Homo sapiens: one gene and its partners. The protein of the gene in region 1 purifies or fractionates together with the protein of each later gene. This does not show direct contact. Each region holds a gene or a part of one and is shown in the gene's direction. Other genes may lie near its edges. The genes, in order: EDEM3, ERAP1, NUDCD1, DNAJC10, TRAP1, LMAN1 and EMC2.

Region 1 (3,500 bases):
TTGATTCTGAGAAAACCACATAGTTTGCTGAATAATTTTTAACCTAGAACCATATTCAGGTATCCTTTAATCTCAAATTCAACCCTCCCACAACTTCATCACACCCTCAAGTTTTCATCTCATCCATATTCTTGCCACATCCTTCCTTCTTTTAAGAGTATTCTTCCTTCTTCCTTGTATTTTATTTGGCCTCAGTGGGAGTGACATCTCTTGTGACATTGCTTTTACTTACTTAGGCTGCCAATGGCATAATTACTGCCAAGTGGCCTCTTGATCCTTATATGATTTAACTTTTCTGTAACTATTGGCTGAACCCTTCATAAAACATTTTCCCTTTTTGGCTTCCCAGGATATTTCAGAAACAAAGTTCTTTTTCTACTTCACTGTTTATTGCTTTGTAGCTCTCCTTGGCACAACCACTCAATGTAAACAGTTTCCAAGAATCTGGATGATATTCTTTTCTCTATATACTCTTCTTCAACAGTGTCACCTATTTCTACAAGCTTAGCTATCATTTTTATACATATGACTTCTTAGCTATGTATGTGAATCCTGATTCCTAAATTTACTATTAAATTCAACTTTCATCTACCTCTCATACATCTTGCATCTCAATCTCAATCTGTCCAAACTTGAATTATCTCTTTCTTGTTTACTCTCTTTCTACCCTCACCTCAACCTATGTTTCCTTCTTTGGCTCTCCATGTCAGTAAAACCTATCATCATTCTTTAAGTCATCAAAGCTGGAAATTTCAGGATAGGTTTGAACTCTTCTTCTCTTCCAGTTCCTCTTATCCTTTTCCATCCTCTAACTTCTATCATGTCTTGTTGGTTTTTCCTGTAAAGTATCAGGAATCATCTTATTTTTTTCTATTATAGTCATTCTTCAACTTTCCCTCTGTTAAGACTCAATTCAAGTGTCATTCTAAATCTTTCCCAGGTACACACAAGCAGAATCAATTGTTCCCTCATCTGTGCTCCTTTTCCACTTTCCCACTTGAGAAATTTTATCATAGCTAACTTTACATGTCTTTCTCCTCCAGACACAAATTTCTTAAAGGACTGTCTCTCCAATGCCTAGGCAAGTGCTGAGATGGAATAAGTGCTTCACAGATATGTTTTGAATCAAATTGAATCTGGTTGTTCACTATTTCAAGGAGGGAAAGTGTGGGTCAGGTATGAGGTTTATTTCTTCAGAGGGAAAGCCAGTGGGGAGAATAAGCAAAGTGAGCATTTGAGCATTCGCTAGAAGTCCAGTTCTCAATCTGAATCAAAAGTGGTTTATAGAATAGCGAAAGTGACATTGATAAAAAATACGGATAAGTTATTTTCAGAAATACTATTTCTGAAAGTATTATTTTTGAGTACAAATAAGGTCATAAATACTTGGTGGTGACCTAAAGTGAAAGAAGAAGTTGTAGAGTAGAATACTACAGTACAGTGTCTTTAGGAAATCAAAAAATTGGTGGAAGTTTCCAGAAAGGAAGGATAAAATGAATTTGTTTTTTTCATAGGCTGCTAGTTCAATCGACGCTGAAGATGGGTTGAGGTTCATGCAGGAGATGATTGAATTGTCAAGTCAGCAACAAAAAGAACAGCAGCTGCCTCCACGAGCTGTACAAATTGTTTCCCACCCATTTTTTGGCAGGGTAGTATTGACTGCTGGACCAGCTCAGTTTGGGCTGGATCTGTCTAAACATAAAGAGGTATGTATACTTAAAATATAGTTGTTGAAACTGAATTTAAAATATTAAGTATTGCCTTATTTCTTAGTCTCTTCTCTAATTTAGTAGTTTTAATTTATTTAAAAAACTGAAATAGTCAATCTCCTGGATTTAAGTAAAGTAAAAGCATGTCTTGAAAACTTTGAGTCATAATTTATGTATATAATATGCTTACAGAATTTTAACTAAAATATTATTCAGGTTCTATTCAATTTCTTGGTCTCTTCTCTAATTTAATACCTGTAATTGATCTAAAAATGGTTTTCAGACTTTCTAAGAGCCACTAGAACCTTTCTTTGAACAAAAGTCTAAACCAGGAGCTTAATGTAGAAAACAGCTAAAAGCACAGAAGCTCTGGCTCAAGTGACTGGAGAAAGCCTGGGACCCTGAGGTTCCACTGGGCAAACTTTGAAGATCATTTAGCTAGTCCATCCTCTATAGTTGTAACATAGTTATAACGTAGAAAACAAAGACTTACATAACTAAGCAATTCACAAAGTTATCTAACTAATTGATTGCAGAGCTGGGACCAGAGCCCAAGTATCGTGACAATCTAAAGCCAATGCTCTTTTCACTCTATTACTGCTAATTTAGACTTTTTTCTCATGTATATTTTAAACTATGTAGAAGCTATATAGATTGATTGATTCATTCAACTGTTGATTGAGTGCCTACTATATTCTGTGCACTGCTTGCTGTATCAGTTTACAAAACCAATGAAGATCCATGCCCTTATGGAATTTACATTTTAGTAGAGTGAAGGATATTAAAACATCTTTATAGTAACGTGTTTAAAAAAATTAGTTCCTTGGTGGATTTAATTTTTTTGGTAAAAAGAACTGCTTGCAGATTCATATAGACTAAGTCCATTTTTTCCCCTTTCAAAAACTTTTCTTGTTACCAATGATCATTTCAAATTAGTTCCCAGCTATTGTAAATGTAGTGAATCTGCCTGCAGGTCCCAACTTTACTGCTTAGTAACATCGTGTTAACATTGTGAGCAAATTACGTAACCTGAGTCTCAATTTCCCCATATGTGAAAGGGAAATGTTATTTGTATTGTTTTGCTCAGGGTCATTATAAATAACAGATTTTGTAGTTTATATAAAAATGTTCTATAAACTGCAAAGCACACTAGAAATATTGGTTGAGTACTGTGATATGCAAAATGTTTAAAACAATATTTTATGGTGACTATATGTTAGATACGTTATCATTAGAAAAGAAATGAGTTCTAGTTCTTTTAAAACTCTAGATATTGAGGTTTAATGACTTGATTGCCATTTGAGAAGATTAAAGTATTTAAGTTGCTTTTATTTCTGACAGACAAGAGGATTTGTTGCAAGCAGTAAACCATCCAATGGTTGTTCAGAGCTTACTAACCCAGAGGCAGTGATGGGAAAAATCGCACTGATACAAAGAGGACAGTGCATGTTTGCAGAAAAGGCACGCAACATCCAGAATGCTGGAGCCATTGGTGGCATTGTTATTGGTAAGTAATCATCCATGTCATTGTGTTGACTGAAGGGGAGATAATTTTTAGGATTTTTTCCCTTTTATTTTCTAAAATTTTATCAAAGAGTTTGTCATAGTTTTTTTTACCTCACCTAGACAACAAGGATAGGTAATCCAATGACTTTTAATTTCTAGATATCTAACATCTTTTTTAAAAGTCTAGATTTGAATTTCTGTATATTAATGTCAGTGAAAATACTTGGGTTTAGGTGTGAGGGTGAGGTAGGGCTGAGTAGTAAAAAAATTCAGTACCATGGATAA
Region 2 (3,500 bases), on another chromosome or scaffold:
TAAAGACAGAGTCTTGCTCTGTTGCCAGGCTGGAGTGCAGTGGTGCAATCTCAGCTCACTGCAACTCTGCCTCCCAGGTTCAAGCGATTCTCCTGCCTCAGCCTCCCAAGTAATTAGGACTACAGGTGCGCACCACCACACCCAGCTAATTTTTGTATTTTTAGTAGAGACGGGATTTCGCCATGTTGGCCAGGATGGTCTCAATCTGTTGACCTTGTGATCTGCCCACCTCATCCTCCCAAAGTGCTGGGATTACAGGCGTGAGCCACCATGCCTGGCCTGAAATTCACATTGCTTTTATGTCTTTAAAATCAATCCAGGTGATTGATACGTTTGCCACAAACTACTGGGAAAATTAAGCTCTTTAAGCTCTTCCTGGCTAAATAAATAGGTAATTAACTTTTGGCATGACAATTTGAGGAAGACACTGATGTTATTAAAGGTTACCATTACATATACTTACAGGGGAAGTGGAGACCTCGTTCTAGTGGTGGCTGCCACTGTGTCAGCATTTGATTTCCAGGGTACTAGGGTGACTTTCTCCAAGGTCCAGTGTCAGTGGGGAGTGGTGCTTGATCAGATGTTCCTCTGATATGGTTCTGGTTTTGCTTCTTTCATGAGCCTGGTTTCCCAAATGTCCTGCAACTCTGTGACCCGTGTAGTGAGCCACTCAGGATCCCCTAATGATTCCTTTTCTGCCTATATCAGCCAGAGCTTGTTCGGTTGCTTTCAACCAAGAACCCTGACAGGTAGAGTTAATTTAAACTTTGAACATCAAATGATGCTTTCTAGTACGTGTTAATGATTGTTGCTAACTGTAAACATCTTTCTTATATGAAACCATAACATAGGGAAGGTCCTTTTACTTTCAGGAAAAGACCTAGTACTTTTGGAAGTTTATGCCTATTTCTGTGAATGCTGGGTGGATACATTCTGAAATTATGCTGTGTCAATAACATTTTAATGACATATATTTTTGCTTTTGTACATTTGTGCCGCTAGGTAGGTAGAGCAAGAAGATGGTGTTTCTGCCCCTCAAATGGTCCCTTGCAACCATGTCATTTCTACTTTCCTCACTGTTGGCTCTCTTAACTGTGTCCACTCCTTCATGGTGTCAGAGCACTGAAGCATCTCCAAAACGTAGTGATGGGACACCATTTCCTTGGAATAAAATACGACTTCCTGAGTACGTCATCCCAGTTCATTATGATCTCTTGATCCATGCAAACCTTACCACGCTGACCTTCTGGGGAACCACGAAAGTAGAAATCACAGCCAGTCAGCCCACCAGCACCATCATCCTGCATAGTCACCACCTGCAGATATCTAGGGCCACCCTCAGGAAGGGAGCTGGAGAGAGGCTATCGGAAGAACCCCTGCAGGTCCTGGAACACCCCCGTCAGGAGCAAATTGCACTGCTGGCTCCCGAGCCCCTCCTTGTCGGGCTCCCGTACACAGTTGTCATTCACTATGCTGGCAATCTTTCGGAGACTTTCCACGGATTTTACAAAAGCACCTACAGAACCAAGGAAGGGGAACTGAGGTATTTTTTTTTCTCTTTTTCTTTTAAACTGCAAGTGCTGCCCACGCTAAATTCATTATTTCAGATTGATTGTCTTTTAAAATTCCCTTTGCTGTTGAACTTTTTCTTCAGTTTTGCTTTTGCATCTTCTTTATAGTGTTAAAAATGGCTTTTTCCCTTGCTTTTTAAATCTCATTTTAAAATTCTATTTTAACCAATTTTCTTTCCCCCAGCTCTATCAGAGTAAATATCTATTTGTTTATTTGGTTCGATTTCTGAGACATAATAAACATGTTTAATTTTCCTGAACTGTGTATTAGTTTCCTAGGGCTGTTGTAACAAAGTACCACAGACTGGGTAGCTATAAACAACAAAATGTATTCTCTCTCAGGTCTGGAGGCTAGAAGTCTGAAATCAAGGTGTCAGCAGGCCCGTGCTCCCTCCAGACTCTGGGTAGAATCCTTCCTTATATCTTCCTAGCATCTAGTGGTGGCCGTGGATCCCTGGTACTCCATGCCTAGCACCTGCGTCATTCTAGTTTCTCCCTCTGTTAGTCGCATGGCCATTCTATTTTCCTATGTCCCAGTCTCCATCTTCTTATAAGGAAACCAGACATACCAGATTAGGGCCCAGCCTGGTGGCCTCTTCTTCACTCCATGATACTTGTAAAGACCCTATGTCCAAATAAGGTCACATGCACAGATACTACAGGTTAGGACTTCAGCAAATCCTACTAGCAACATATTAGAGGAAATACTTTTATCTCAGTTAAAACTTTTTTAGAGATCTCTTCTCACCTTGCTTTGGTTCTGTTTTTAAGGAGGAGACTTATTTGGGGGAGATTTTATGCTCAGTTTTAAAATGGAATTTTATTTGTTGGTAGATTATACTAATTTATTTTTCAAATTCCATATTATTTTATCAAGGTAAGAAAGTAAAATTTATTTCACTCATAGCCCCCTGAACTGACCACTACTTCTATTTCACTGGAATATTCTGCCAGACTTCTTTCTGGATATGCATATATATTATTTTATATAAATAGAATTCTTATATTTTCTCTTTTACAAGGAAATTTTTTAACTTAATATGTTGGGAAGATGTTTTATATAAATGACTATTACTAGACATCTTTTTAATGATTTTATTAAAATACATAGTTGTACATTAATATCTTTAATCCCTCGGGAATGGAAATGAAATTGTTTCCAATTTTTCAGTATCAACAACACTTTGATGAGCATTTTTGTAAATTATTTCTTTAGAATAAATGCCTAGAAGTAAAATTGGTAAGCCAAAGAGCCTATAAATTTTTGATAAACTTTGTCATTTTTTCTTACCCCTCACCAATAGTGTATATTGGCAGTCTTTTTAGAGCAAAAAAGGTCCCCAAATAAATGATCTCTTTTTAATTTACGTAACTTTGATTAAGGAAGTTGAGCAGCTTTTGATATGTTTGTTAATGATTTATAGGTTCTTCTTTTATGAATTGCCTGTTAATGACCTTTGACTTTGCCTGAGATTCCCTTGGTTGTTGGGGATTTTTTTTTTTTTTTTTTTTTTTTTTTTGTCGAGACGGAGTCTTGCTCTGTCACCCAGGCTGGAGTGCAGTGGCGCGAACTCGGCTCACCGCAACCTCCGCCTCCCGGGTTCAAGCAATTCTCCTGCCTCAGCCTCCTGAGTAGCTGGGATTACAGACGCGCACCACCACACCCAGCTAATTTTTGTATTTTTAGTAGAGATGGGGTTTCACCATGTTGGCCAGGGTGGTCTCGAACTCCTGTCCTCGTGATCCGCCCGCCTAGGCCTCTCAAAGTGCCAAGATTACAGGTATGAGCCATTTTTAGGATTACATATTTTTAGGATCTCACTATCTGTTAAGGCTATTAAGTTTTCCTCACATACTTCTTAAATGAATTTTCCCTGTTTTTTACTTTTTCTTTTTAACTTTTTTTTTTTTCTTCCCGAGACAGGGTCT
Region 3 (3,334 bases), on another chromosome or scaffold:
GAGAGAAAAGAAATAGTCTGTGGTCTCTGTGTGCTGGCCTTCTCCCCTTATTTTGTAGAGAGCAAGCACTGGCTCTACGAAAAAGCCCTATTTCCCTGGCATTGCTGGGGAGCAGAAGATGGGTTGCTCTGACACTGTATTCTCCTGTGACCAATAGCCTGTGTTGTCACAGCTTTACCAATAATAGGTCCCCTTGCTGGAGAGCCACTTCACAGCTTTCCCTGTTGAATTCAGGTCAGGTCTCCACTTCTTACTTTAACCCAATCTTTTACGGTTCTCCAGTCTGCTTGCAAACTCCTAGAATCAATTACATATTTATAAGTACTGTGCATATTTTATATTTTCTACATTTGATGTGATTTTTGTTGGTATTCTGTTTCGTATTTTCAACTCTGATAATAACATTTCTCATAAAGAAGACTATCCTTACAACATGTCTTCATTTAGAAAAAGTATTGCTGTAGATGAAATTCAGTGAGTTTCAATTTGATGATTTTGTATTAAAATGCATTTCTTTAGGCATCAATATTGCAGTAACAATTATTGATGTGTTACAATAACAAATGTTGACATTATTGACATATTGACATTGATACTTTAATTAAGCAGTACGTTTAAGTAAATAGTTTTAAACATCTGAGTGTGAATTCCAGCATTGTGATATTTCTCTTTAGCCTAGAACAAGTTACTCAAACTCTCCAAGCCTGTTCTTTCATCCCTTAAATGAAGATAATAATAGCCTTGCGAGTTGTTAAGATTAGTATTTATAACATGCCTGGTTATAAATGTTATGAGAGTGTGCTCATAAATTCTGGTAGTGTCATTGTTCTTGGTAATTATTACAAGTTAGCATTAGTAAACTTCATGTGTGTATTCTATGGCCTAAAAATAGTCTGCTTATAAAATTGGTGCTTTATATCAGCAGTCCCCAACCTTTTTGGCACCAGGGACCAGTTTTGTGGAAGACAGTTTTTCCATGGGCCTGTGGGGGCTTGGTGGATGGTTTCAGGATGAAACTGTTCCACCTCAGATCATCAGGTATTAGTTAGATTCTCATAAGGCAGACAGCCTAGATCCCTTGCATGTGCATTTCACAATAGTGTTCACCCTCCTGTGAGAATCTAATTCCACTGCTGATCTGACAGGAGGTGGAGCTCAGGCAGTAATGCTCCCTTGCCTGCTGCTCATCTCTTGCTGTGCGGCCCAGTTCCTAAAAGGCCACTGACTGGTACCAGTCTGCGGCTCAGTGACTGGGGACCCCTGCTTTATATCGTGTTTTAAACTATTTACTAACAATTAAGAGGTGGTATATCACGTGGTGATTAAGAACATAGACTCTGGGTCCAAATTTCAGCTCCATGACTTATGGCCAGGCTGACCATCGACAAGTTACCTAAATGCCTTGTGCATCACTTTCCTCAGCTTTGAAATGAACATAACAGTAGCACATTTATCTCAGGGATATTATGAGGAGTCAATCAGATTAAGTATATAAAAAGTATAAAACAGTTGCTGACACTTAATGCTGGCTGTCAGCTTCTGCCATTGTTATTGTTGCTATTATTAATTTGTTGTTGAGTAAATTTTTTTTTAAATCACTTTTTAGGTGAATCTTGGAAGCAACCAGTACCTTTTCTCTGTCATAGTGGATCCTAAAGAAATGCCCTGCTTCTGTTTGCGCCATGATGTTGATGCCCTACTCTGGCAACCACACTCCAGCAAACAAGATGATATGTGGGAGCACATCGCAACTTTCAATGCTTTAGGTATAAAGCAAACTCTTTGACATTTTCCATGAAATCAGAAATACAGTCATCATTCATTTAAAGTTCATTTCTTTTTTTTCTTTTTAATTTGAGCTGTCCTGATTACATTTAGATTGATTTGCGCTATGATTTGTTTGCTTGTACTAGTTGTGAGTGTTAGCACTGTTGGAACATTTAGACTAATCTGTTTTTATGCTTGTACAGAAGATCAACACAGAATAGAAATGAAAGTGGTTATCTAACCACTTGAATTATTCTAATAAGTCATTTGCTTTTTCTAATTCTGTAAGCCATATAATACTGGAGTCTGAGCAAGGAGCTTGATAATACCCTACATGGAACTGGTGTTCAAGTTTCTTCAGAGTAATCTTCAGAAACATCATAGAATTCCCCTAAGGTGTAATGCACATTAGGAGACATCTTTTGTCAAAATTAAGTACAAAAGAGAGCCATTATAATGAAAATACTTATGGAAAGCGGTGATAAGCAGAAATTAAATTTATTTGGTAGGATAAAAGGAAAAAAATCAGTTTTAAAATTAGGGCTTGACAATGTTTAAACTACTTAATTATAGACGTATGCAATCATTGATTTTCTGTCAAAATGCATTAGTATTGTGTGACAGAAATTTTTTATGTGAATTAGCCACAGTTGTTGCTTTATTGAAAGGTTATTTTAAACAGGCAGCAAGAAGTGAAGTTACGTATTTTGATGGCTATATGTGCACAACCCTAATTGTAGAAGAAATTTATTAATTATCCCTTATAGTTAATAATGTAGGCTGCTAAACTGGTTCAGACTCCAAATGGATTTTTATGACCTGAAGTACAAAGTTTGGTTAACTAATTTAACCATATAATTTTTAGCCTCCCTACTATAATGCTATTTTTTAATTATCTATACTTTGGTCAGAAGAAAGCTCTATCATATCATCTTTAGATGCTCAGATGTTCTATTTGTATCCCCAAATCCCCTATTATAGGGGAATTCTATGCTTAATTCTAAGTTAAATCAACATATATTAGATATGTACTCTTGAAATATTATATACATTATTCTGTCAAGGTTAGCCTGGATAGCTACTTTAAACTATTTAAATAGGTATCTAAATCTTCACTTTTCCTGCTTCAAACCTGCTTAATATTTTTAAAAACAGTATTGATCTGCATGTGCTCAGTAGTTCCTTTGCTTATTCATTGTTTGATGAGATCTCAATTTTAATTAATGTTATATTCTTATTTTACATGATCATAAATACCTAACATTTGCTAACCATGTCACTATCTAAAAATCATAATTTATATTTTGGAATATAAATGTTGTTTTAATCCAAAAAGATACTTTTTAAACATGTACATGAATTAAGATAAGGATTTTTTTCAGTTTAGAGACTTGAAATTATTTTTGAAGTTATAGTGATCAACATTCTACTTGTGGGGGCTAAAAGTACAAAAAAATCCAGTTACAGTGTTGGTATTGATGTATAAAAATATCACTAACATTTTAGGGATAATAAGAGAATGCATCACGAATACTAGTACATTCAGGGATACATTATGAACAGAAAA
Region 4 (2,854 bases), on another chromosome or scaffold:
AATACATGTTCAAAGAGTAAATTAAAGAAAAAAGAGATGCTCAAGTCAATTTATAAGTAATCCTCACAAATGCTTGCATACCATCAGTGAACAATTATTTTTTTATCTCCATGCTATAATCTTGCACAAGTTTCATTAGAATTAAATGCACTATCTGAAGTCTATGTTTATTAAATGAGGATTACAGTAGTTGGTTATCTTTGTGAGGGGTTTTGAGGGTTGTGGAACAGGATAACATTTTGAGGTACAAAAAATAATGAAGAGGATATATTCCAATTTCTTTCCTTCCCCAAGGCTTTTCATTACAGCTGTTATAAACCCTGGTAGAATTGATTGGTTTCCTTTTCAGCTTCCTGTTTTGTCCCTCAATGTTCACAAAAGTCCCATCTGATAAATGTATTGTTTAACCTCTCATTGTTTGAAAGAACACCTCTTTGCTCCCCACAGATTACAGACCTATTGGCTTAAGCAGTCCATCTAAATGCATGCCAGTTTCTTTCTTGATAAATTAGAGGCCTATAACCTCAAACCAGTTTATCTGCAAGAGAAGTGTGTGAAGTTAGACTCAATTCTTCCGCTAATGGAACATCGTAATCCTCCTTGTCATCTTTCCTTTGGCCTTCCTGAATAGAAATCATTTATGAGGAAGTTACATGAGCTCAACATGAGCCCCATGTCACTCAGCAAACATTTATTTGAGTACTTACAATGTGCTAGGCTTTGTTCTATGCATTTAAGATAGTGTATTAAATGTATTGACCTCATGAAGATTCTATTCTCGCAGTGGGGAGATAGACAATAAACAATTAATATAAGCAAATGTTAAGTATGTTAGAAGTATGTTAGAAGATGTGCTGTGAAATAAAGAAAAAGGTAGACCAGGGTATGAGGGATTAGGAGTGTGGGGGCAGCAGCAGGAGAGTTTCGGTATTAAATAGGGTGGACAGGGCAGGTCTCTTGGAGAAGATGCCATTGAAGGAGGTGGAAAAAATGTAGCCACTAAATGGGCTGAGGGTAGAGCATATGAACAGAGAGAAAGGCCAGAGGACAGGCTCCAAGGCATGCTTGGCAGGTTCAAGGAACAGCAGGGAGGCTCATGTGGCTGGAATGGAGTGAGCTAGCAGGAGAGAAGATGAAGTTAGAGGGAGAGAGAAAGTGGGGAGCCAGATCATAGAGGGCTTTGCAGGTCACTTGTAAGGACTTTAGCTTTCTAACTTTTGTAAGGACTTCAACTTCTACTCACAGTGAAATTGTGAAATTCCAGAACCAAAAAGAAGATCCTGGTAAAAGAGAAACTTTCAGCAAAATATATTTAACATTTTATTTGAGTGAAGAACAATTCATCCATCAGGCAGCACTGAGAACCAGAAGACATTCAGAGAGCTCTGCTTTGCGAGGTATGCAGTGAACATTCATAGACAGAAAACAAAAATTAAGTACAGAAATAGCTTGATTGGTTACAGATAGGCATTTGCCTTATTTGGACATGGTCTGCTCCAAATAAGGCAAGTTGGCAGCATGCAATTGGCTGTGACCTATCTGTTACAAAAATATATCTATATAATCCTAAATTAGGTTTCAGTTTATTTAAGTACTAAATTAGGTTGCAATTTATTACATGGGAACTCAAAGTCTGGAGACAGCCTCAGGCCAAGGTCCTCTTGCTTATTTAATTTAGCAATCCTAAAATTTTCCAGAGAGGAAACACATCACACACACACACACACACACACACACACACACACACACACACACTACCTACAAAAAAATAACAATTAGAAAGTAATTGGAGCTTGAAGTATTCTAGAAGACTTTGGAGCAAAGCCTTCCAAATTCTGAGAGGAAAATATTTTTAACCTAGGATTCTATTCATACCTACCCAGACTAACAAGTAGCAGGCAGATGATAAATATATTTTTAGGTGGTTAGGTGATGAAACACCTCCTCCAAATGAAGGCATAAACAACAATGCATGGGGATCCAAGAAACAGTGACTCCAACCCAAGAGAGCAGTGAACAAATCCACAGGACAGCAGCTAAGTAGGAGGCCTAAACATCACCTGGGGCAGATGGGGCGAGAGAGCAGAGAGCTTGGGAAAGAAGTCTCTGAGGAGAAAGAATGAGGCAATAAGTCAGATGCGTATTTGCGGACCTCAGAAAAATTTGAGTACATAGGAAACAATAGATGAAGGATAGAAATAATCCATTCAGATTCTCTCCTTTGCATGATGACCACATTAAACTTACAGAGTAAGAAATGTCATTCTAGATTTGATTCTACTGTTTGTCTTTGCAGTGAGCTATGTTTTTTTATAACATGTAGAAGTGAAATAAACTTGTCACAAAAATGCAAATTGTGTCACCAATTTTCAGCTTAACAACATAAAAATAATTATATACACTGACCCAGGTTAAGGACGGGTAGAAGTACGAATGTCCTTATCTTCCAGAGTGAAGTGAGGCTGTAGTCAGGCATTGCAAACTCACATAGTTAAGGGTGTTTTGTAGGTAAAGTACATGACGGTAGTTAGTGCATGCACTATTTTAAAAAGGCAGTAGTTTCTCTGCTCCAAAAGAGTATTGTCATGAAGAAAGAGACCCAGATGTTCCAGTTTACCCAGAATTTACCCCAATCCGGGTTTTTATGTAAAATATTTCAAATGTTCACAACTACTTAAAACATTTAAATATATGAGGGTCAAACAATACCATATCCAGCCTGGGGTTTCCAGTTTGTGACATTGCTACAGCAGATGGATAAGAAAATGAAGTAAGGTGTTTGAATGTATGAAATTAACCAGTATAGATGTTAAACTGGCAGCAGCAGCTCTAGAGTATGGAAGGGCCATCCGGT
Region 5 (3,500 bases), on another chromosome or scaffold:
ACCACACCCAGCTAGGTTTTGTATTTTTAATAGAGATGGGGTTTCACTATGCTGGCCAGGGTGGTCTCGAACTCCTGACCTCATGATCCACTAGCCTTGGCCTCCCAAAATGCTGGGATTACAGGCGTGAGCCACTGCGCCTGGCCTACCCTCAGAATATTTCTGTGAGGGGTGGGCTAGGATATCCGCTTGTGGACTTTATATTTGTCATTTTTGCCCATAACAGTTTATTCAGCAAATACATTTCCAATGCCCCCGAGTCGTCAAAGAAAATGTGACCCTGCTGTCTGGAGTCATAGGTGGCTGCTGAGCAGTGTACCAGGGCCATCTTGGTGGCCTGGACAGCACATTAGAGAAACAAGAGCTGCTTGCCCCAGGGTAAGTTTCACAGATGAGGAGCGATTTGGGCCGAGTGTCCAAGGCTGTTTTCACTGGAGGGGAGGGAGGAACGTTCCATGTCTGGAAAGCTGCAGGTGCAAGGGTAAGGAGATAGCTCTGAATAATTGGTTTGATGAAAGACTTGCGGGAGTGTGCAGGAGTGATGGTGAATGAGGCTAGCAGTTGTGTCTTTTCTGTCAGATATAAGCTTGTGCGTAGGAGCCTCATCCTGCATTCCTCAGGACAGTCACAGAGCCAGCCCTGGGCCTGGTGTGTGGGGAGCCCAGCCACGTGGCCCACCATGAGAGCTTTTCGTCAGAGCTCCAACTGTCAGAAGTGTCAGATGTGCCAGTAGAAGGATGAGGCCGCCTCCTAAAGGAGAGGGAAGACCTGGAAAGATCAACAGCAGACGCAGTCTCCCAAAGCAAACGTGATTCTGTGGTCAGGCAGGTACGGTGACGGGTTGGTCATTTTGCATGACGAGGTGACTGCCACAATCACCAAGGGTGCCGAGTCCAGTCTCCTGGTCATGCCAGATGCTCTTGTTTTCGTGAAATTGCCAGAACATGACTGAGGCAACCACGATAGGACTGGTTGGTGCAGGCGTTAAGATCTTGGGCCTTTTTGTTCTCTGTAAGCTGGAGCCTTTGCTGGAACTTCCTGTCTTGGAAATCAGAGTTGTGAGAGTAGGTCCCCTGCCAGCACCAGGAAGGTCGGGAGAGCTGGTTTCCTCACTTTGCTCAGGGCTCAAGTACTAGCTAGTTTGTTTCATCTTCCAAAAAGAGCCTCACCTGGACCCCGCTCCTGTAGGTGGTGCCTGCCTGCTGCGCCCTCCCCTTCAGTACTTCGTTTTGTTGACGGGTTTTGCCTCCTCCCTCTGCTCTCCCTTTGTTTGGAGCCTGTGCTGTTTGATTTCCGTGTCTTGTGTGCTGCACCCTTCAGGAGAATTCAGGTGAATTTCTGGTGCTCTCCGGCTGTTCTTTTCAGAGTGGAGGGGAGTAGTACTTGCTGGTCAGTTGCGACTCTGTCTGTGAAACAGCTCTTTGTGTTGCTGAGATGACGCTAGAGGTGTAGCGTCCATGACATGTTTGTCGTCTGATTAAGCTGTGGTGCTGGCACTTAGACGGCAGAGGAAGGTGTGGCCCAGCTGTCCAAGGCCACCAGGAGGACCTTCAGCTTAGTTAGGACCAAGGGAACTGAGTTATCTGAGTGCCTGAAAAAGAACACATCAGGCCGGGCGCGGTGGCTCTCGTCTGTAATCCCAGCACTTTGGGAGGCCGAGGTGGGTGGATCACTTGAGTTCAGGAATTTGAGACCAACCTGGCCAACATGGCGAAACCCCGTCTCTACTAAAAATACAAAGAAATTAGCCAGGGTGGTGGCAGGCGCCTGTAATCCCAGATACTTGGGAGGCTGAGGCACGAGAATTGCTTGAACCTGGGAGGTGGAGGTTGGAGGTTGCAGTGAGCCAAGATTGTGCCACTGCACTCCCTCCTGGGCGACAGTGCAAGACTCTGTCTTGGAAACAAACACATCAATCCGAATGTAAGAGATTAGCAAAGCGTTTATTGGTTACTGGGTGAGTAGTTGGCCTAAGCTAAGACAAAAGAGGAATCTCCAAGTATTTTGCTACCCCTTGGCAGGAAGAGAGGGAATGCAGCTTGCGGGGTGGGGATGGGGGTGTCAGGTTGATAAGAAAACTGTGGGAAAATAAACATTTACTCCTGCCCCCCATGTCAGTAAATACCATGTGACAAAGGTGAGTTCCATGAAAGAGGCTGTTACTGAGGCCTGTGATACTTGCTTGTCTCAAAATGCTGACATATCTTTTTTTTTTTTTTTTTTTTTTTTTTTTTTTTTTGAGACAGATTCTTTCTGTCGCCAGGCTGAAGTGCAGTGGCATGACCTCAGCTCACTGCAACTTCCGCCTCCTGAATTCAGGCAGTTCTCCTGCCTCAGCCTCCTGAGTAGCTGGGACTACAGGTGCATGCCACCATGGCCAGCCAATTTTTGTATTTTTAGTAGAGACGAGGTTTCACCGTGTTGGGCAAGATGGTCTCAATCTTTTGACCTTTTGATCTGCCTGCTTTGGCCTCCCAAAGTGCTGGGATTACAGACATGAGCTACCACGTCGGGCCTGACAAAGAATCTTGATAGCGATTGAAAATGTATCCATTCATACTCAAATGAAGTAAAAAGTGCTTTTGGGTTCAAAGCCAGAGAATGTTCATGGATGGCGTTTTTGGTGCCTCAAGTGTAGCCAGCTAGAACTTTTCTTACCACCGTCCTGCTTAGTCCTACTGAAGACCTGCCTTCTACTAGGAAGCTGCTCTTAGTCCACAAAGTGGCTTCCCTGTAGTTCCACAGCATTTAACAAAATAGATTTCAGGGAGTTTATTTGTGGTGTGGCTGGTTATTTCTGCTAAAACCACTAGGAATTACCATAAAAGCTGTAGCTTGGAGAAACAGTATCTACTTGCGGGAGTATTACTGCCACCTGTGTTTTTTTTGTTTTTGTTTTGGTTTTTGTTTTTTTTTTGTTTTTTTCAAGATGGAGTCTTGCTCTGTTTCCCAGGCTGGAGTGCAGTGGCACGAACTCGGCTCACTGCAATCTCCACCTCCCGGGTTCAAGCAGTTCTCCTGCCTCAGCCTCCCAAGTAGCTGGGGCTACAGGCATGCACTACCGTGCCCGGCTAATTTTTGTATTTTTAGTTGAGGTAGAGTTTCACCATGTTGGCCAGGCTGGTCTTGAACTTCTGACCTTGTGATCTGCCTGCCTCGGCCTCCCAAAGTGCTGGGATTACAGGTGTGCGCCACCGTTCCCAGCCCTGCCATTGGCTTTTTAACCAGGTGAATTCCTGTAGATTGGGTAGATTGAAAGGACATGTAGCTGAATCATTGGTTTTAAAAGGAATGGCTCAGTTACTTCATAGCCATATAATTAAGAAATGTGGCTAGAAGGTAAAAAATTGGCCAGGCCTGGTAGCTCATGCTTGTAATCCCAGCACTTTGGGGGCTGCGGCGGGAGGATCCTGTGAGTTTAGGAGTTTGAGACCAGCCTGGGCAACCTAGAGAGACCCCCATCTCTACCAAAAAACCCTTTTTTTTTTTTTTCCAATTAG
Region 6 (3,500 bases), on another chromosome or scaffold:
TCTTTAAGAGTCAAGAGATTGGCATTTTTACCAGTGAGAATGTGGCTTAGTCATGTATGAAATAAAGAGTACCATGGTTATTTGGAGGAATGGGACCGCTAGAGTGAAAGCTCCATGAGGACAGGGATTTTGTTAATATTCATTGCTGTGACCACTAAGCCTAAAAATAAATCCAAAACAATGCTAACCTAGTAGTTCAGGTTCAGTAAATATTTTTTGACTGAAATCATCAAAAGTGTATATTTTTGGTTTTAGTGACACATAATTACCTTATAGTGTGGAGATAATCCTTAAAATCTATCAAAACTGTTGTGAAAGTAATGTGACATATCTGCTTCTCCTCCCCATACTACTCGATAGAATCCTGGACTGTATACTTGAAAATTATAAAATACTAGTCTAACCCAATGTTATTAAGAACGTGAGTGTGCTAATGTCAAAAATAAAACATTTTAAGGCCAAATTGAGGGAATTTATATTATCTGCTAGCTTTTTATCTGAATTGTTCCCAGTCAGCATAAGTGATCAAAGGTGTACTTAATAAAGGCTGTGGCTAGCATTTGAACTCTATGTAGTATGCAGTTCTCTTAATGATCAACAGTATGAGTCAGACTTAATGAATTTAAAAATGAAACATAAAGGTCATTCTTATTTTGAATTTGTTTTAAACATCATCACATAAAATTTGTGAGTATATCCTGAAGCTGACTTTAGTGTTTGAAAAGTATTGTTTAGTAAATTTTGACAAATGTGTATACCCATTTAACCATCACCCCGATCAGTACACGGAACATTTTTATCATCCCAGAAAGTTCCCTCATGCCTCCTTAAAGTCAACAACCTTCTCCACAGAGCCCATCACTATTCTTATTGTTATCACTGTAGATTAGTTCTGCCTATTCTTATAAGTAGAATCACACAGTGTAATGAAAGAGAAATATTTTTCCATTTTAATTTTATTTAACTTTTTATGTATTTAGGAAGAGTACAAGTGCAGATTTCTTATATGCTTGTGTCATATAGTGGTGAAGTCTGGGGTTTTAGTGTACTCTCACCCTAATGAACCTGGTACTCAGTGGGTAATTTTCAACCTTCATTCCCCTCCCACCTTTTGTAGTCTCCAGTGTCCGTTATTCCACTCCATTTGTCCATGTGTACCCATTGTTTAGCTTTTACTTATAAGTGAGAATGTATGGTATTTGACTTTCTAAGTCATTTCACTTGGGATAATCACTTCCAGTTCCATCCATGTTGCTGCAAAAGACATAATTTCATTCTTATTTTATGGCTGAGTAGTAGTCTATAGTATATACATACATATATACACACACACACGCCACATTTTCTTTATCAAGTTCTCTGTTGATGGGCATTTAGGTTGATTCCATATCTTTGCTATTGTAAATAGGGCTGCAATAAACGTATAAGTGCAAGTATCTTTTTGATATAATGATTTCTTTCCCTTTGGGTAAACACCCAGTAGTGGGATTGCTGGATCAAACGGTAATTCTAATTTTAGTTCTTTGAGAATTCTCCATACTGTTTTCCATGAAGGTTGTACTAATTTACATTCCCACCAACAGCATATAAGCATTCCCTCTTCTCCACATCTTGACAACATCTGTTGTCTTTTGACTTTTTAATAATGGCCATTGTGACTTGTGTAAGATAGTATCTCATTGTGGTTTTAATTTGGATTTTTTTGATGATTAGTGATGTTGAGCATTTCTTCATTTATTTGTTGGCCACTTGCGTGTCTTCTTTTGAAAAATGTCTGTTCATGCTCTTTGCCCAGTTTTTTAATGGGCTTTTTGTTTTTCTCTTGAGTTGTTTGAGTTCCTTGTAGATTCTGGATATTAGCCCTTCGTTGGATGCATAGTTTGCAAATATTTTTTCCCATTCTGTAGGTTAGATTATTGTGTTGATTGTTTCTTTTGCTGTGTAGAAGCTTTTTAGTTTAAGTCCCATTTGTCTATTTTTGTTTTTCTTGTGTTTGCCTTTGAGGACTTGGTCTAAGTTCTTTACCTAGGCCAATATGCAGAAGAGTCTTTCCTCAGTTTTCTTTTAGGATTTGTATGGTTTCATGTGTTATGTTTAGGTCTTTAATCCATCTTGAGTTAATTTTTGCATATGGTGAGAAGTATGGGTCCACTTGCATTCTTCTATATATAGCTATTCAATTTTTTCTGCACCGTTTATTGAATAGGATGTCCTTTCCCCAGTGTTTATTTTTGTTGACTTTGTTGAGGATCAGTTGATTGTAGGTATGTGGGTTTATTTCCTGGTCCTCTGTTCTGTTCCACTGACTTATGTGTCTGTTTTTATACCAGTATTATGCTGGTTTGGTTACTTTAGCCTTGTAGTATAATTTGAAGTCAGGTAATGTGATGCCTCCAGATTTATTCCTTTTGCTTAGCATTGCTTTGGCTATTTGGGCTCCCTTTTTTTTCCATATGAGTTTTAGGATTTTTTTTTTCTAATTCTGTGAAAAATGACATTGGTAATTTGATTGGGAGTGTCTAGAACTAGTAGATAGTTTTGGGCAGTATGGTCATTTTAACAATATTGATTCTTCCAATTCATGAGCATGGGATACTTTTCCATTTGTTTGTGTCATCTACCATTTCTCTCATCGTTGTTTTGAAGTTCTCCTTATGGAGAGCTTTCCCCTTCTTGGTTAAATATATTTCTAGGTGTTTTTTTTTTTTTTTAGCTGTTGTAAATGGAATTGCCTTCTAGATTTGGTCTGCTAGATCATTATCAGTATATGAAAATGCTACCGATTTCTGTACATTAATTTTTTATCTTGAAACATTACTGAATTCATTTATCAAATCTAAGAGTTTTTTGGTGGAGTCATTAGGATTTTTGAGATATAAGATCATATCATTAGCAAACAGGGATAATGTTACTTACTCATTTCCAGTTTGGATGCCTTTTATTTTTTTCTCTTGCCTGATTGCTCTGGTGAAGACTTCTAGTATTATGTTATTACACGTAAGAGTGATAAAAGTGGCATCCTTGTCTTGTTCCAGTTCTTAAAGGGAATGTTTTCAACTTTTCCCTGTTAAGTGTGAGGTTGGCTGTGGGTTTGTCATATGTGGCCTAATGTTGAGGTGTGTTCATTGAGGATTTTTATCATGAAGGGATGATGAATTTTATTGAATGTCCTTTCTGAGTCTGTTGAAATGATCATGTGTTTTGTTCTTAATTCTGTTTATGTGGTGTATCATATATATGGATTTTTATATGTTGAACCCTCCTTGCATCCCTGGGATAAATCCCACCTTGATCGTGCTGTATTATCTTTTTGATGTGCTGTAGGATTCATTTTGCTGGTATTCTGTAGAGGATTTTTGCATCTTTGTTCATCAGGGATATGGGTCTGTAGTTTTCTATTTTTTTGTGTCCTTGTCTGGTTTTGGTATCAGGGTGATACCGCCCTCATAGGATGAGTTAGGGGGAATTCTCTCCTCAGTGTTTTGGAATAATTTCAGGAG
Region 7 (3,500 bases), on another chromosome or scaffold:
GACATAGGTGAAAGAGCCTATAGCACAGGCTGGCATAAAACAAAGGCTTAACCTTTTTTTGAATCACATGGTCATATTCTTTTAAGAGTAAAATATATTTAAGAATAGGAATCAAGTTATATCTTACTCTTCACAGTAATATATACATTTAATAATTAGCATATGATTTTGGGGTTTTATGGATTCTTTCACAGATCCCAGATTAAGAACCGCTCATTTAAATACATTTTTAAAAAGGAGAGGGTGGATCAAATTGCAGGGACTAATTAGTTCTCTGAAACACAGTTTGAAAACTCATGGTATAGTGAAAAGAGAAATGGATTAGAGATAAGGATCTTCTTTATTTCGAAGACCCATTATTTTGCTTTGGTCAAGTTAAATCTCTCTTATTGGACTTAAATTTCTTTAACCTATTAATGTAGGATGTCAGGCTAAATTATTTTTGAGTTTCCTTTTTCTATAAATATTCAATAATTCTATGATTCTGACATAGCAAGTTATGTAATTCAGTAATAAGAAATAACACCAGTAATATCCTACAGTGGTAAAGTGCTTTTGGTTTATAAAGTGTTCTTCTAGAGCTTCTTTATTTAAATGATATGGAATTTTACCTTTAAGAGCTGTTACAGGTACATAATTAAATAATTTTAGGTATTATTTAAAATATCTTTTCCCTTTCCACTATTTTGGATTTATACTATATTTTAAAATATATTTTCATTTTTAAGCACTAATATTCAACTTTATGTTTATATTAAAAATTATTTTAATACAGTTTTTAAAAATTCTTTATTATCCCATTGCAACCATGTCCCTTATGTTTTTGATTATCTTGACTAGCAAAAAAGGAATTTTGCTTTTGATGTTTTTATTTGTTTTTAGTCGGCAAGTCATATTGCTTCTAATCCAAAAGCAAGTGCAAAAACGAAAAAGGACAACATGAAATATGCTAGTTGGGCAGCTAGTCAAATAAACAGAGCTTATCAGGTTAGTATTTATTGATCATTTTGCTATGTAGGTCAGTTAATGTATTTCTTAGTTTTGTTACTACAAACTACAAAGTCGTATGTCTAGCATTGGACTTATATATGCCTTTGGGGCTTTATCAAATGTGTTGTGTTTTGAATTAATTTGTAGTTTTAAGATTACCTTTTTTTCCCCTCAAGAGGAATCTGTTAGTATTATTATTTCATAATTAGCCTTACCATATGGAAATCTCAGTGGTTCTGCATTTGGCAAACGCAAAGTAATTCTAAAAACTCAGAAAGGATAAATAAATATCACGTCACATTTCAGAAGCAGATTGGGTATGTGAGTGTATTATTAATCATAGGTATCTCAAGAAATAGAAAAGAAGGAAGAAAGCCTTAAACTAATCAAACTGCATAACAAAGTTTGTGCAGTCTGCTTACACTTCAGATCCTTTACTGAAACTTCTCCATTTGTATCTTAGTTTTCTAAAGTTCGTCCTTAGCAGATTTTTTAGGAAATTATTTTTCGTTAGAAATTTGCTCATGGGAAAACACATCTTTTTATGTCTTTAGCCTTATTTGTCTATAGCCTTTATATTTAAAGGACAATTTGGCTTTTTATATACCCGTTAATACTTTACCTAAGTATCTTAAGCATACTGTTCAGTTTTGTTTTGTTTTTAATATAGACGAGATCTTGCTATATTGCCCAGGCTGGCCATGAACTCCTGGCTTCATGTGATCCTCTTACCTCAGCCTCCTAAGTAGCTGGGACTTCAGGTGCAGGCATCACCATGCCCAGCTATTTCATTCTGTTTCAGAATAAAATGTTGCCGTCAGGAAATATGATGCCGTCTTGACTTACTTTTTATCATAAGTGACTTGTCTGGTTACGCAAAGGAATTTTTTCTTTATCTTTAAAATCCAGTAGTCTTACTATGATTTGTTTTATTGATTATTCTTGGGTCAGTTTTCCCAAATACACAGTACACCCATTTAGTACATCAGTTTAGCCCTTTTATTTGAGAAAAGTTGCTTTTAGAATTACAAATATTTTTTTCTCTGCTTAGTTTTCTTTTTCAGGGTTTCAGTAATACGTGTATTAGACTTCATTTTTCTATGTCCTTTATTCATTTTCTTTCAAATTATTTTGTCATTTTCTGTATTTTATAAAAATATGAATTTGATTCATATTTTTCTTTCCTCCATGTTTAAATGAGGTAGTTTTCCTGGACTATTAGGAGACAATGTTTATGGAATGGCAGGGAGTTGGAGATAGGTTAGGGTAGCTTTCCCAGCTTGGCTATTCTATGGCCGTCTCCTTTTTTGCTAAAGAGAATTCAAATATGACCTCTTTGTATAGCCGGTCTTTCTTAGAACTGAGTATGAATGGCCAGTCTGTCTTAGAACTCAGTGTGACTCAGAAAGATTTTCTGGCTTCAGCCCTCTGTTCTGTTTCTAGAGCCCTCAAAGTCTTGAATTCTGAGGTGTTGCTCTCACTTTAAATGTTACATATTGTTGTTACAGTTTGTGTTTCTTCCTTTTTGTTTTGTTTTCTTCTGGGATTGCTGCCTCTGGGCATCACTCCTTTCCTCACCCCTCCTTGTCTGAACCATCTCTCCTTCTTGCCCTGGTGTTTCTGCCCTGTTCAGTTTGGTTTCAGTTTTTAATTGTTTTTCTTCAGGGTGTGAGGTTTTGTCCTTCTGGAAGAGGATGTTTGCTAGATATTTTAGAAATTTTAAGATATTAGACGGTTAGACTTGTCTAATCTCACATTTATGAGCAGTTTTTTACATTTATCTTTGTTTTGGAGCTTATGAAGACTTCTAGGCCATTGGCAGCTGCATCATCTCAGGTTTTCTTGTTTAGTGGATTAAGAATTCATAATTTGTTTGGTTTTTGGTTTCTTGTAGAGTAGTAGGTTGTCCTCTATTACTTTCTATTCCTCCTACCACACAGTTGTTAATCTTTTGTTGGTCATGCTGCTCTTGATGACATAGTCACATTCTAGGGTTTGGAAAATTGACTGTTACCTAGTTTTTTTGAAAATGTCACCTGTGGGCGTGGGTTCTGTTATGTTGGTTTTGGTGCTGGCTTTTTGTTGTTCGTTTTTGCCCTTCTGGTTGGAGAAAATTGAGAAGATTTTACAAATGTAGTGCCTCCATAATCACATCATTGAAAGTCACCTTTGTGTATTTTTATTGTCTGTTATAGAGCATGTTAGTTTTGTTGGCATATTCTAAGTCAGAGTATTTATAAATATTAGTGAGACTGTGCTTCTTCAAATGCAGTTTGGGATAGCTCAGATCTGTAATGGAGTTCCACACAGAGTAGGCTTGGGGGTGTGTGGGTGTGTGTGATTTATGTAATATTAAAAAAAAAGATTTGTGTAATATAAAAGTAACGTTATGCATACTACATAATTGTTTTTAAGATATGAGAAACAGCTACTCAGAGTGCTTTTTTGACATAACTATTTTAAAATCAATTTTTACTAAATTAATAACATAGAAATAAGAATTATAACAG

What was found.
Region 2: the proteins of EDEM3 (region 1) and ERAP1 purify together in Homo sapiens (affinity purification with mass spectrometry, with the first as the bait; one large-scale study listed by BioGRID). This does not show direct contact.
Region 3: the proteins of EDEM3 (region 1) and NUDCD1 purify together in Homo sapiens (co-immunoprecipitation; one large-scale study listed by IntAct). This does not show direct contact.
Region 4: the proteins of EDEM3 (region 1) and DNAJC10 purify together in Homo sapiens (affinity purification with mass spectrometry, with the first as the bait; one large-scale study listed by BioGRID). This does not show direct contact.
Region 5: the proteins of EDEM3 (region 1) and TRAP1 purify together in Homo sapiens (affinity purification with mass spectrometry, with the first as the bait; one large-scale study listed by BioGRID). This does not show direct contact.
Region 6: the proteins of EDEM3 (region 1) and LMAN1 purify together in Homo sapiens (affinity purification with mass spectrometry, with the first as the bait; one large-scale study listed by BioGRID). This does not show direct contact.
Region 7: the proteins of EDEM3 (region 1) and EMC2 purify together in Homo sapiens (affinity purification with mass spectrometry, with the first as the bait; one large-scale study listed by BioGRID). This does not show direct contact.

Annotation. Positions count from the first base shown.
Region 1 is NC_000001.11:184,706,359-184,709,858, reverse strand, and holds part of EDEM3 (ER degradation-enhancing alpha-mannosidase-like protein 3 isoform 2 precursor), read left to right. Parts: intron 1-1,514; coding exon 1,515-1,706; intron 1,707-3,031; exon of another isoform or gene 3,032-3,050; coding exon 3,051-3,216; intron 3,217-3,500. UniProt on the Homo sapiens protein: Involved in endoplasmic reticulum-associated degradation (ERAD). Accelerates the glycoprotein ERAD by proteasomes, by catalyzing mannose trimming from Man8GlcNAc2 to Man7GlcNAc2 in the N-glycans.
Region 2 is NC_000005.10:96,801,446-96,804,945, reverse strand, and holds part of ERAP1 (endoplasmic reticulum aminopeptidase 1 isoform b precursor), read left to right. Parts: intron 1-1,002; 5' UTR 1,003-1,019; coding exon 1,020-1,543; intron 1,544-3,500. UniProt on the Homo sapiens protein: Aminopeptidase that plays a central role in peptide trimming, a step required for the generation of most HLA class I-binding peptides.
Region 3 is NC_000008.11:109,243,754-109,247,087, reverse strand, and holds part of NUDCD1 (nudC domain-containing protein 1), read left to right. Parts: intron 1-1,606; coding exon 1,607-1,766; intron 1,767-3,334.
Region 4 is NC_000002.12:182,792,111-182,794,964, forward strand, and holds the end of DNAJC10 (dnaJ homolog subfamily C member 10 isoform 1 precursor), read left to right. Parts: 3' UTR 1-2,354; downstream 2,355-2,854. UniProt on the Homo sapiens protein: Endoplasmic reticulum disulfide reductase involved both in the correct folding of proteins and degradation of misfolded proteins.
Region 5 is NC_000016.10:3,711,025-3,714,524, reverse strand, and holds part of TRAP1 (heat shock protein 75 kDa, mitochondrial isoform 1 precursor), read left to right. Parts: intron 1-3,500.
Region 6 is NC_000018.10:59,342,266-59,345,765, reverse strand, and holds part of LMAN1 (protein ERGIC-53 precursor), read left to right. Parts: intron 1-3,500. UniProt on the Homo sapiens protein: Mannose-specific lectin. May recognize sugar residues of glycoproteins, glycolipids, or glycosylphosphatidyl inositol anchors and may be involved in the sorting or recycling of proteins, lipids, or both.
Region 7 is NC_000008.11:108,478,124-108,481,623, forward strand, and holds part of EMC2 (ER membrane protein complex subunit 2), read left to right. Parts: intron 1-882; coding exon 883-987; intron 988-3,500. UniProt on the Homo sapiens protein: Part of the endoplasmic reticulum membrane protein complex (EMC) that enables the energy-independent insertion into endoplasmic reticulum membranes of newly synthesized membrane proteins.